2 separate regions of the Homo sapiens genome follow, and region 2 is linked to region 1. Evidence: fine-mapped expression QTL. Tissue or cell type: whole blood. Region 1 holds a variant in brackets; the other region holds the start of a gene. All regions are shown on one strand. Distances are between the middles of the regions.

The links. PIP is the estimated chance that this variant, and not a neighbour inherited with it, causes the effect.
Region 2: MTARC1 starts here. The variant in region 1 is fine-mapped to the expression of MTARC1 in whole blood (TOPMed, PIP above 0.99).

The regions. Positions count from the first base shown.
Region 1 is chr1:220,606,376-220,614,031 of GRCh38, forward strand. All of the region lies in intron 6 of MARK1 (microtubule affinity regulating kinase 1), which reads left to right. Among named protein-coding and RNA genes, the nearest start is that of C1orf115, 80 kb to the right of the region's middle. The variant G/A (reference allele first, on the strand shown) is at 4,650.
Region 2 is chr1:220,785,367-220,791,097 of GRCh38, forward strand. MTARC1 (mitochondrial amidoxime reducing component 1) reads left to right here and starts at 1,547. Exons shown (of 7, transcript NM_022746.4): 1 at 1,547-1,853. The coding sequence starts at 1,579.

The DNA.
Region 1 (7,656 bases):
TTTTTTTCTTGTAAATTTCTGTGAGTTCTTTGTAGGTTCTGGATATTAGCCCTTTGTCAGATGGGTAGATTGCAAAACTTTTCTCCCATTCTGTAGGTTGCCTGTTCACTCTGATGGTAGTTTCTTTTGCCGTGCAGAAGCTTTTTAGTTTAATTAGATCCTAATTTGTCTATTTTGGCTTTTGTTGCCATTGCTTTTGGTGTTTTAGTCATGAAGTCCTTGCCCATGCCTATGTCCTTAATGGTATTGCCTAGATTTTCTTCTAGGGCTTTTATGGTTTTAGGTCTAGCATTTAAGTCTTTAATCCATCTTCAATTTTTGTGTAAGGTGTAAGGAAGGGATCCAGTTTCAGCTTTCTACATATGGCTAGCCAGTTTTCCCAGCACCATTTATTAAATAGGGAATCCTTTCCCCATTTCTTGTTTTTGTCAGGTTTGTCAAAGATCAGATGGTTGTAGATGTGCGGCATTATTTCTGAGGCCTCTGTTCTGTTCCATTGGTCTGTATTTCTGTTTTGGTACCAGTACCATGCTCTTTCAGTTACTGTAGCCTTGTAGTATAGTCTGAAATCAGGTAGCATGATGCCTCCAGGTTTGTTCTTTTTGCTTAGGATTGTCTTCACAATGCAGGCTCTTTTTTGGTTCCATATGAATTTTAAAGTAGTTTTTTCAAATTCTGTGAAGAAAGTTATTGGTAGCTTGATGGGGATGGCATTGAATCTATAAATTACCTTGGGTAGCATAGCCATTTTCACAATATTGATTCTTCCTATCCGTGAGCATGGAATATTCTTCCATTTGTTTGTGTCCTCTTTTATTTCGTTGAGCAGTGGTTTGTTGTTCTCCTTGAAGAGGTCCTTCACGTCCCTTGTAAGTTGGATTCCTAGGTATTTTATTCTCTTTGTAGCAATTGTGAATGAGAGTTCATTCATGATTTGGCTCTCTGTTTGTCTGTTATTGGTGTATAGGAATGCTTGTGATTTTTTGCACATTCATTTTGTATCCTGATACTTTGCTGAAGTTGCTTATCAGCTTAAGGAGATTTTGGGCTGAGATGATGGGATTTTCTAAATTTACAATCATGTCATCTGCAAACAGGGACCTCTTGACTTCCTCATTTCCTAATTGAACACCCTTTATTTTTTTTTCTTGCCTGATTGCCCTGGCCAGAACTTCCAACACTATGTTGAATAGGAGTGGTGAGAGGACATCCCTGTCGTGTGCCGGTTTTCAAAGGGAATGCTTCCAGTTTTTGCCCATTGAGTATGGGGAATGCTTCCAGTTTTTGCCCATTCAGTATGATGATATTGGCTGTGGGTTTGTCATAAATAGCTCTTATTATTTTGAGATACGTTCCATCAATACCTGGTTTATCGAGAGTTTTTAGCATGAAGGGCTGTTGAATTTTGTCAAAGGCCTTTTCTGCATCTATTGAGATAATCGTGGTTTTCATTGTTTGTTGTTTATGTGATGGATTACGTTTATTGATTTGCGTATATTGAACTGGCCTTGCATCCCAGGGATGAAGCTGACTGCATTGTGGTGGATAAGCCTTTTGATGTGCTGCTGGATTTGGTTTGCCAGTATTTTATTGAGGATTTTTGCATTGATGTTCTTCAGGGATATTGGTCTAAAATTCTCTTTGTTTGTTGTGTCTCTGCCAGGCTTTGGTATCAGGATGATGTTGGCCTCATAAAATGAGTTAGGGAGGATTCCCTCTTTTTCTATTGATTGGAATAGTTTCAGAAGGAATGGTACCAGCTCCTCTTTGTACCTCTGGTAGAATTTGGCTGTTAATCCATCTGGTCCCGGACTTTTTTTGGTTGCTAGGCTATTAATTATTGCCTCAATTTCAGAGCCTGTTATTGGTCTATTCAGAGATTCAACGTACTCCTCGTTTAGTCTTGGAAGAGTGTATGTGTCCAGGAATTTATCCATTTCTTCTAGATTTTCTGGTTTATTTGCATAGAGGTGTTTATAGTATTCTCTGATGGTAGTTTGCATTTCTGTGGGATCAATGGTGATATCCCCTTTATCATTTTTTATGGCATCTATTTGATTCTTCTCTCTTTTCTTCTTTATTAGTCTTGCTACTGGTCTATCAATTTTGTTGATCTTTTCAAAAAACCAGCTCCTGGATTCATTGATTTTTTTGAAGGGTTTTTTTATGTCTCAATCTCCTTCAATCCTGCTCTGATCTTAGTTATTTCTTGCCTTCTGCTAGCTTTTGAAAGTGTTTCCTCTTGCTTCTCTAGTTCTTTTAATTGTGAGGTTAGGGTGTCGATTTTAGATCTTTCATGCTTTCTCTTGTGGGCATTTAGTGCTACACATTCCCTCTACACACTGCTTTAAATGTGTCCCAGAGATTCTGGTATGTTGTGTCTTTGTTCTCATTGGTTTCAAAGAACATCTTTATTTCTGCCTTCATTTTGTTATTCACCCAATAGTCATTCAGGAGCAGGTTGTTCAGTTCCCATGTAGTTGTGCGGTTTTGAGTGAGTTTCTTAATCCTGAGTTCTAATTTGATTGCACTGTGGTCTGAGAGACAGTTTGTTGTGATTTCTGTTCTTTTACATTTGCTGAGGAGTGCTTTACTTCCAAGTATGTGGACGGTTTTGGAATAAGTGCAAAGTGATGCTGAGAAGAATGTATATTCTGTTGATTTGGGGTGGAGAGTTCTGTAGATGTCTGTTAGGTCTGCTTGATGCAGAGCTGAGTTCAAGTCCTGGATATCCTTGTTAACCTGTCTCATTGATCTGTCTAATATTGACAGTGGGGTGTTAAAGTCTCCCATTATTATTGTGTGGGAGTCTTAAGTCTCTTTGTAGGTCTGTAAGGACTTGCTTTATGAATCTGGGTGCTCCTGTATTGGATGAATATATATTTAGGATAGTTAGCTCTTCTTGTTGAATTGATCCCTTTACCATTATGTAATGGCCTTCTTTGTCTCTTTTGATCTTTGTCAGTTTAAAGTTTGTTTTATCAGAGACTAGGATTGCAACCCCTGCTTTTTTTTGTTTTCCATTTGCTTGGTAGATCTTCCTCCATCCCTTTATTTTGAGCCTATGTGTGTCTCTGCACATGAGATGGGTCTCCTGAATACAGCACACTGATGGGTCTTGACTCTTTATCCAATTTGCCACTCTGTGTCTTTTAATTGGGGCATTTAGCCCATTTACATTTCAGGTTAATATTGTTAGGTGTGAATTTGCTCCTGTCATTACAACGTTTGCTGGTTATTTTGCCCAATAATTGATGCAGTTTCTTCATAGCATCGATGGTCTTTACAATGTGGCATGTTTTTGTAGTGGCTGGTACCAGTTGTTTCTTTCCATGTTTACTGCTTCCTTCAGGAGCTATTGTAAGGCAGGCCTGGTGGTGACAAAATCTCTCAGCATTTGCTTGTCTGTAAAGGATTTTATTTCTCCTTCACTTATGAAGCTTAGTTTGGCTGAATATGAAATTCTGGGTTGAAAATTCTTTAAGAATGTTGAATATTGGCCCCCACTTTCTTCTAGCTTGTAAGGTTTGTGCCAAGAGATCCTCTGTTAGTCTGATGGGCTTCCCTTTGTAGGTAACTCAACCTTTCTCTCTGGCTCCCCTTAACACTTTTTCCTTCATTTCAACCTTGGTGAATCTGACAATTATGTGTCTTGGGGTTGTTCTTCTCAAGGAGTATCTTTGGATGTTCTCTGTATTTCCTGAATTTGAATGTTGGCCTGCCTTGCTAGGTTGGGGAAGTTCTCCTGGATAATATCCTAAAGAGTGTTTTCCAACTTGGTTCCATTCTCCCTGTCACTTTCAGGTACACCAGTGAAATGTAGATTTGGTGTTTTCACACAGTCCCGTATTTCTTGGAGGCTTTGTTCATTTCTTTCTACTCTTTTTTCTCTAACCTTATCTTCTCGCTTTATTTCACTAATTTGATCTTCAGTCACTGATAGCCTTTCTTCCACTTGATCGAATCGGCTATTGAAGCTTGTGCTTGCATCACGAAGTTCTCGCACCATGGTTTTCAGCTCCATCAGGTCATTTAAGGTCTTCTCTACACTGTTTATTCTACTTAGCCATTCGTCTAATCTTTTTTCAGGGTTTTTAGCTTCCTTGTGATGGGTTCAAACATCCTCCTTTAGTTTGGAGAAGTTTGTTATTACAGACCTTCTGAAGCCTACTTCTGTCAACTTGTCAAAGTCGTTCTCCGTCCAGCTTTGTTCTGTTGCTGGCAAGGAGCTGCGATCCTTTGGAGGAGAAGAGGTGTTCTGATTTTTAGAATTTTCAGCTTTTCCGCTCTGGTTTCTCCCCATCTTTGTGGTTTTATCTACCTTTGGTCTTTGATGTTGGTGACCTACAGATGGGGGTTTTTATGTAGATGACCTTTTGGTTGATGTTGATGCTATTCCTTTCTGTTTGTTAGTTTTCCTTCTAACAGTCAGGTTCCTCAGCTGCAGGTCTGTTGGAGTTTGCTGGAGTTCCACTCCAGACCCTGTTTGCCTGGGTATCACCAGTGGAGGCTGCAGAACAGCAAATATTACAGAACAGAGAATATTGCTGCCTGATCTTTCCTCTGGAAGCTTCGTCCCAGAGGGGCAGCCACCTATATGAGGTGTCTGTCAGCCCCTACTGGGAGGTGTCTCCCAGTTAGGCTACATG[G/A]GGGTCACGGACCCACTTGAGGAGGCAGTCTGTCCATTTTCAGAGCTCAAACACCATGCTGGGAGAACCACTGCTCTCTTCGGAGCTGTCAGACAGGGACATTTAAGTCTGCAGAAGTTGCCTGCTGCCTTTTGTTCAACCATGCCCTGCCCACAGAGATGGAGTCTAGAGGCAGTAGGCCTAGTTGGGCTGCGGTGGGCTCCACCCAGTTCAAGCTTCCTGGCTGCTTTGTTTACCTACTCAAGCCTCAGCATTGGCAAATTCCCCTCCCCCAGCCAGGCTGCTGCCTCGCAGATCAATCTCAGACTGTTGTGCTAGCGGTGAGCAAGGCTCCGTGGGCGTAGGACCCGCCAAGCCAGGCACGGGAGAGAATCACCTTGTCTGCTGGTTGCTAAGACCTTGGGAAAAGCGTAGTATTTGGGTGGGGAGTGTCCCGTTTTTCCAGGTAGTCTGTCACGGCTTCCTTTGGCTAGGAAAGGGAAATACCCCAACCCCTCGTGCCTCCCTGCCCTGCTTCAGCTCGCCCTCCGTGGGCTGCACCCACTGTCCAGCCAGTCCCAGTGAGATGAACCAGGTACCTCAGTTGGAAATATAGAAATCACCTGTCTTCTGGGATGATCATGCTGGGAGCTGCAGACCAGAGGTCTTCCTGTTCGGCCTTCTTGGAATGTCCCTCGACATGTATTTATTTTATTTATTTATTTTTTATTTTTATTTTATTTTTTTGAGACAGAGTCTTGCTCTGTCACCCAGGCTAGAGTGCAGTGGCGCTATCTTGTCTCGCTGCAACCTCCGCCTCCTGGGTTCAAGCGATTCTCCTACCTCAGCCTCCCAAGTAGCTGGGATTACAGGCACACACCACCACGCCCAGCTAATTTTTGTATTTTTAGTAGAGATGGGGTTTCAGCATGTTGGCCAAGCTGGTCTTGAACTCCTGACCTCAGGTGATCTGCCCACATCGGCCTCCCAAAGTGCTGGGATTATAGGCGTGAGCCACTGTGCCCAGCCACACACATCGTTTTAAGTATTATTCATTTAATATCAGTCACAGTAGCTTTTGTTAGTAGCAGACCAGCAAGAAAGTTCCAATTTGCGTTAAATATTCCCATTAGAATCCTAATGTATATTTTAAAGATTATTGCTACTTATTTTTTAAGGCAGCTAGTTTTACTTATTTTTTGATAGATGTAGAAAATTGTACTGGGTACTATATGGAATTAGAGAAGTTGGAAATGCCTGCTATTTTAAAGAGCTTTCCATCTTTGCTGGTGAGCGAGAGCAGGATAAGAGGTTGGGACATAGGTATTTTAATAGAGATACAAATAATTACTAAAATTGGCTTGGTTTTTTAAATAAAGTCTGTAATATTTTGAAATCATCTTCATATTCTTTACATTGCAGAGACTGAGTGCCAAATGAATGCTATATAAATTGTAAAACAATGGCAAATATTTTCTTTATAATGTATTTATTTACTATAAATTTTAAATGTATTTAGTATCTATATATGTTTTCCCAAAACTAAAAAAGTTACTAACTCACATTTTTACAAACCAGAGATATGTAAACATACATACACACATGCACACACATACATTATTTTGTAGTTACCTGACTACAGATAAATTTATACTTAAATTTATTTTTGAGGAGCTTACTTTTATTTATGGATTTGATTTAAACTCTTATGGACTTAATGAATATACATTTACTTTTATTTGCTTTTTTATTTTAACAGTGAAAGAATGTATGTATTAATACTGTGTCAACAATAATAAATGTATATACATCCTTGACCTTACTCTTAGAAATACCAAAGACACTTGGGCAGTTTAAGACCACTGAGCAGCCATTGCCCATACAATGCTTTTACATCCCTTAAGACTTGAGCCTACAGAAAAAAAAAAGTCGTAATATTGATTCAATTCTTGCAATATCAAGTCTACCACTTATAAGTATTAACAATTGCAAAGTAACCGTGATAACTCCACCTCAATGGAAAACACTGATGTGTGTGGTCTTACCGTCAGTACCCAGCTGACAGTAAATCATGTTTTCAGGATCCATTAATAGAAGGCTCATAGGGAAGTTCCGATATCCTATTTATGGAAGTACAGAATGGTTTGAGATGGGAAGGTCTAGCTGTAAAATAATGCAGTAAAAATTGGGCTTGTGGAGGGGGATTCTTGCATTGAGTCAGAAGGCAGAACTTCTTTCATGGCAGAAATTGTTCCCTGCTAAGCAAATGTGGTAATACTATAATAAACTACCACATTTGACTGATAGCTCAGAGTTCATAGAATTTGGGGAGAACACATGCTTAATGCAGAGGATTCTTTGTAATTATCTTTGCATTCTTGATGCTTTGAGGCTCAGGAAATGTTTGATTCCAGAAGTACTTATAGAACTGTTTTCATAGAGACCATTCTGTCTGACATGAGTTGCATGGCCTCTGATCATGTTTGGTAACCAAATTATTATCTGTTGCATACCTTCAGTGGCTCATACAAACATGTGACTAACAAAAGATAATGTAATTATCAGCAAATTTCTGGCACTCATGATACGAAATAATCTTATAATATGAACATACTATAACCTATATAGTATGTCTAATAAAATATACATATAAATGTATGTATCTTTTGGCTAATGAACATAATTCAGTGAAAATTGGGTATTAGAATTTTGAAGCATATTGCTTAAGAAAACTAATACTACAAATTTTCATCATTAGAACCTTCTGTATTTTGGGGAATCATACTTCAAATTGATTATAATCATTCCCAGTCACCCTGCCCAAGAACATCTAGTGGTTCTGCAGTACCTGCCTAGTTTTGAATTCATGACTTTGACCAACCTATTTGTCAAGATTTGACTCCCACTGTCACCATTTTTCCACCTCCTTTTCTTTAAATGATTTTTGGTTTGGTTTGGTTTTGTGGGGTTTATTTTGTTTGTTTGGTCGGTTGGTCTGTTTGTTTGTTTGTTTGTTGTTTTTGAGACA
Region 2 (5,731 bases), 180 kb after region 1:
TGACCTGGGGTTGGAAGAGAAGAGAATAGAGCAGAAAAACAGGACAGATAAGTGTTCAGGCCAATAAAGACAGAGCCTCCCTGAGCACTGAACTGCTCTGCAGTGAGTTGCCAGCTGGAGGAAGAGTGTTGTTCTTTTCTCTTGGCGAACTCCCGCTTCTCATCCATGCACCCTTGCCCTGCATGGGCAATTCTGGCTGAGTCTTGCAATGTACACTCCTGGCTCAGGGGACCATGGCTGAGCTGGGGATAACACAGACTCTCCTTGACCAAACTTCGGACTCTCCTGTGCCCTTTTCTTCATGAGGCCTTGACCTTGCCACCCTACTCCCTGCAGAGCCCAGTTTAGCAAGAATCCTGCTTAGTCAGTTTCCAGAGTATTCTCCCATCCTTAATATCTGATCACCCTTGATGTCTGCTCAGATTCCTCATATGTCACCCTCAGTGTGTAAGTCCTTGCCTTGTTCAGTAGAATCCTGTTAAGTGGGTTTATCAAGAATCCTCTACACTTGATGTCTCCGCTTAGTGATTTTCCATTCACTGACCCCGAGGAACTTCGCTCCTTGGCTATGAATCCTGAGCTGTCTTTGCTGTAATACAGAGTTGAGCCTAATCTCTTTCCCCTATTGTGATGCCCCTGTTACAGTAGCCTTGAATAGTCTTCCTTACCTTTTTAACAAGCGTCTGAGGGAATTTTTTTCCTTTAATAGCTTGGTACATCAAGCAGGAGCCTGACTCCTAAACCACGCTGTTCGGGGTATGCTAACATTGTTGTCTGGAATATAACCTGATTTGGAAGTGACAAGTGACTGAGGTGAGTGCCTGCAGGACCAAGTGACTTTCCCTCCCGCCGGAAGCAGCCCGGGGACCTTGTGCAGCGTTAAACTGAGCCAAGGCCCTTGCCAATGCAGCTCCAGCTCGAGGCTCCCCGCCGGTAGGAGTCGAGCGTCCCCGAGCCGTGTAGAAGGCACTCTCAGACGCCCATTGCCGCTCCCAGGGGCCGCCGGGAGAACTCTGGCCTTGGCTCGCCGGCGCGGAGGGCCTGGTAGCATCCTCCTTCATCAGACCCCCACTCTCTGGAAGCTCCTAGCCCCTGGGCAGACTGAGGGGAGGGCGGCGGCAGCAGAGAGCTGGACACTGCACAGGCCAGGCAGGGCCTACCAGCTCTCCACTATTCCCAGGAGAGGCTGCTGCCAGCTGTCTGATTTCTAATTTCAAAATCACGCTTTGTCCTGCAAATGTTGTATATTGTTTATTTTAGGTCAAATAACCCCATAAATACGTAAGTAAATAAATTGGTCACTTGCAGCGATCGTGGGGTGGGGGAGGGCACAGCGCCCTGCAGCGCAGGCGACGGAAGGTTGCAGAGGCAGTGGGGCGCCGACCAAGTGGAAGCTGAGCCACCACCTCCCACTCCCCGCGCCGCCCCCCAGAAGGACGCACTGCTCTGATTGGCCCGGAAGGGTTCAGGAGCTGCCCAGCCTTTGGGCTCGGGGCCAAAGGCCGCACCTTCCCCCAGCGGCCCCGGGCGACCAGCGCGCTCCGGCCTTGCCGCCGCCACCTCGCGGAGAAGCCAGCCATGGGCGCCGCCGGCTCCTCCGCGCTGGCGCGCTTTGTCCTCCTCGCGCAATCCCGGCCCGGGTGGCTCGGGGTTGCCGCGCTGGGCCTGACCGCGGTGGCGCTGGGGGCTGTCGCCTGGCGCCGCGCATGGCCCACGCGGCGCCGGCGGCTGCTGCAGCAGGTGGGCACAGTGGCGCAGCTCTGGATCTACCCTGTGAAATCCTGCAAGGGGGTGCCGGTGAGCGAGGCGGAGTGCACGGCCATGGGGCTGCGCAGCGGCAACCTGCGGGACAGGTACGGCCAAGCGCCGGCGCGGGGCAGCGCTGATCCGGCTCGGGGCAAGGGGGTGAGAAGGGAGGAGCGCAGGGGAGGTCTGCAGAGTCTGCTAACAGGTCCTTCCTCCTATTACAAAGAAACTGGGAGTTGGGTGAGACAAGGCCAAAGAGAAAAAGGAACCCTCACCCCCCAGCATCAGACCCCAGGGCTCTGGGACTCTGAGCGCGTGGACCCGTTTTCCCGGGGTGGGCGGATCTCCACCTCCCACTGGCTCTTTGGCGTCATGTGCTCCTGCTGAGGTGTGGTATCGCTCCCAGGTGTCTGCCAGTGAGCAAACTTCTTAATCTCCATTTAGTGGAGGCGGCTAGCTTGAAGAGGTTGGTTCCCAGTCGCTATTTTGAGTGACTTTCTTGAGATCTTGGAGAAAGCTGAACTGTAGAGTCCAGCCCTCCAAGAGCGCACCAAGGCGGAGCTCATAATAGTAATGACAGCAGTTCAACGAATACCTTCGGGCGCGGTGGCTCACGCTTGTAATCCCAGCACTTTGGGAGGCCGAGGCGGGTGCATTACCTGAGGTCAGGAGTTCGAGACCAGCCTGACCAACATGGTGAAACCGCGTCTCTACTAAAAACAAACAAACAAACAAAAAAACAAAAATTAGCCGGGCGTAGTGGCGCGCACCTGTAATCCCAGCTACTCAGGAGGCTGAGGCAGGAGAATAGCTTGAACCCGGGAGGTGGAAGTTGCAGTGAGCCAGGATTGCGCCACTGCACTCCAGCCTGGGCAACAGAGCGAGACTCCGAATCAAAAAAAGAAAGAAAGAAAGAAAGAGTTGTGGGGGCATTGCAGATGCTATTTTCCCCAATTCTCTCCAATGCTCTCAAGCACTCTTGTGGATAAAGAAGTTGAATTCAGAGCCACACAGCAGCAGAACCAGGACTCTTATTTTCTTTAGCACACTGGGGCTTTGTAAAGAGTGACTTTGTTAATGTCCTGTCTGGGTTCTGAGAGCTGCGTGGATTCCTGGGGTTCAGCGAAGGCTGCAAAACCCGGGAGCCGGCAGCTTTGTCCTCTTTAGGGTCTGGCTTCAGGCCAGCCTCGGGTCTTATTGTGAGGCTGCACTTGAAACTCCTTTCCAGAGCAGCCCTCGCAGTTCAGCAAGTAACACAGGACTAATGGGAGCTGTAACCTTTCTCCTACCAGCTCCCCAGACAGAGGGCAATTCATGACATAGTTGAAAGGTGAGTGACGTATGCATCTTTGCTTCAGGAAGGAAGCCAAGAATCCTAAATATTCCATGTTTTGGGCCAGGCGCGGTGGCTCACTTCTGTAATCCCAGCACTTTGGGAGGCCGAGGCGGGTGGATCACAAGGTCAGGAGATTGAGACCATCCTGGCTAACAGGGTGAAACCCCTTCTCTACTAAAAAATACAAAAAATTAGCCGGGCTTGGTGGTGGGCGCCTGTAGTCCCAGCTACTCGGGAGACTGAGGCAGGAGAATGGCGTGAACCCGGGAGGCGGAGCTTGCAGAGCTCCACTGTGGCAGAGATCTCGCCACTGCACTCCAGTCTGAGCGACAGAGTGAGACTAAGTCTCAAAAAAAAAAAAAATCCATGTTTCGTATAGTAGGCTCTGAAAAGTGGTAGAGTTTTTGTAGGCCCCAGAGGCAAAGGGCACTGGAATTTTACTACTTAGATTCAAAAAGCAGTTTTTGAGCTCATATTACAATAGATGACAAGAAGAGCTGGCCTTTGTACCAGACACTATGATAAATTCTTTATTTTCGTTCATCACACACTCCCAGAAAGTGTGATCAAAAGAAGCCAACACTGGCTTACAGTCCTAGGTTGTGACTAGACTAAACAGAGGTTGTGACACGTGCCAGGGTGCCAGCATAGAGGATGCGACACGTGCCAGGGTGCCAGCATAGAGGATGCAGTGCTGGAAGCTGGCTGGGGCCGTCAGGGACAACATCAGAGAGAAAGTAACAGCTTGAGCTGAAAACTGGAAAACGATTCAGAACTTGCTGGGCAAGTAAATTGGGAGAAGAACTTTCTAGAGAGGGAATAAGCTGGGCAAAGACACTCGGCTTGTGAGGATGGGGTATGCTAGGGGAAAGGCTGGCATAGTCAATGCCAGAGGGGTCCAATCTTTTGGCTTCCCTGGGCCACATTGGAAGAAGAATTGTCTTGGGCCACACATAAAATACACTAACACTAACAACAGCTGATGAGCAAAAACAAAAACAAAAACAAAAAAAATCTCATAATGTTTTAAGAAAGTTTATGAATTTGTGTTGGGCCTCATTCAAAGCTGTCCTGGGCCACGGGTTGGACAAGCTTACTCTAAGGTATTTACCAAAAGGAACTGGGACATAAATAGGATGAATGTTCTTTGCAGCATTGAGTGTTGAATGTTCATTATGATGTTATTCACAGTAGCCAAAAGGTGGAAACAACTAAGTGTCCATTGATGGATGAGTAGATAAGCAAAATGTGGTATATACACACAATGGAATATTATTCAGCCATGAAAAGGAATGAAGTTCTGATATGTGCTACAACATGGATGGCCCTGGAAAACATAATACTAATTGAAATAAGCTAGACACAAAAGGACAAATATTGCATAATTCCAATTATATGAAATGTCTAGTGGATAAATTTATAGAGACAAAGTGGATTAGATGTTACTGGGGGCTGGGGGAAGGGGAAAACGAGGAGTTATTGCTTAATTGGTACAGAGTTTCTGTTTGGGGTGATGAAAAGGTTTTGCAAATAGTGGTGATGGTTGCACAACACTGTGAATGTACTTTACTGCCACTGAATTGCACACTTCAAAATGGTTAAAATCACATTTAAAAAATTCCATTCTCTGTTGATGGACACTCGGGCTGTTACTACTTTTTCAGCATTTTGATTAAAGCTGCAATAAACATTGATACACAAATGTCTGTTTGAGTTCCTGTTTTCAGTTCTTTGGGGTCTATACGTAGGAGTGTGCTAGGTATTTTATGTTTTATATATATTTTACTGCAATTAAAAAATAAATATATAAAAGACTGGCCTGTGTGAAGACCTCGGGAGGTAAGAATGGCTGGAGCAACAGCTGGATCATGAAGGGCTGGGCACGCCCTTGTTTAGGAGTTGGTTTTATCCTGAAAGCAGGAACCATGGAGGGATTTTGAATGAGGGGGTCATAAAGTTAGATTTGCATTTTAGAGCGATGTAAACTGCCATTACCAGGAAGAATATTAGACAGAATATTCACCTGCTAGTCCCAAGGATTTGGGTCAGGGCAGGCCTCTGTCTGTGCAGAAACAAAGTCTGGTAAAAGGGCAGTTACGGAAAGGGCTTATACTAAGCATATTTTTCTAGTGTAGCTGAACAACTCAACCATGATAACCTGCTGGAAGTGATGCAAGAAATATCTTGAACGACCTAAAGTACCGGCCATATTTTTTTCTTATGTCTGGAAATCTCAAAAGCACATGCTCACTTCTATAATTGTAATCATTTGATCAGTGTGTACTGTAAGGATTGAAATGCCAATATGTTTTGCTTCCTTGGTAGCTGAGAGATAACCTGCAAAAACATGTTGTTCTTGTTCTGGAAATGGCTCTTTCTATTACCTTTATTTCTCCATTTATCTTTTTTTCTAGGAAGTACCTGTAGACCAGGAATACTGGGCCAGAAGAAAAAAATACTGTCTAGTTTAGCAAATTGCAGAATGGACAGCACTGAATGTTGGAACATAAAATTTTTAAAAGGTGGGGGGCTGGAACTGGCAGAGTATAAGTGGCACTGTGTGTTGCTCAGCTGAACTCCATGCCCTGTGAACAATATAAGCAACAGTCCTGCTATTTCCACTGACAAGAGCCCGTTGCCTACCAGATG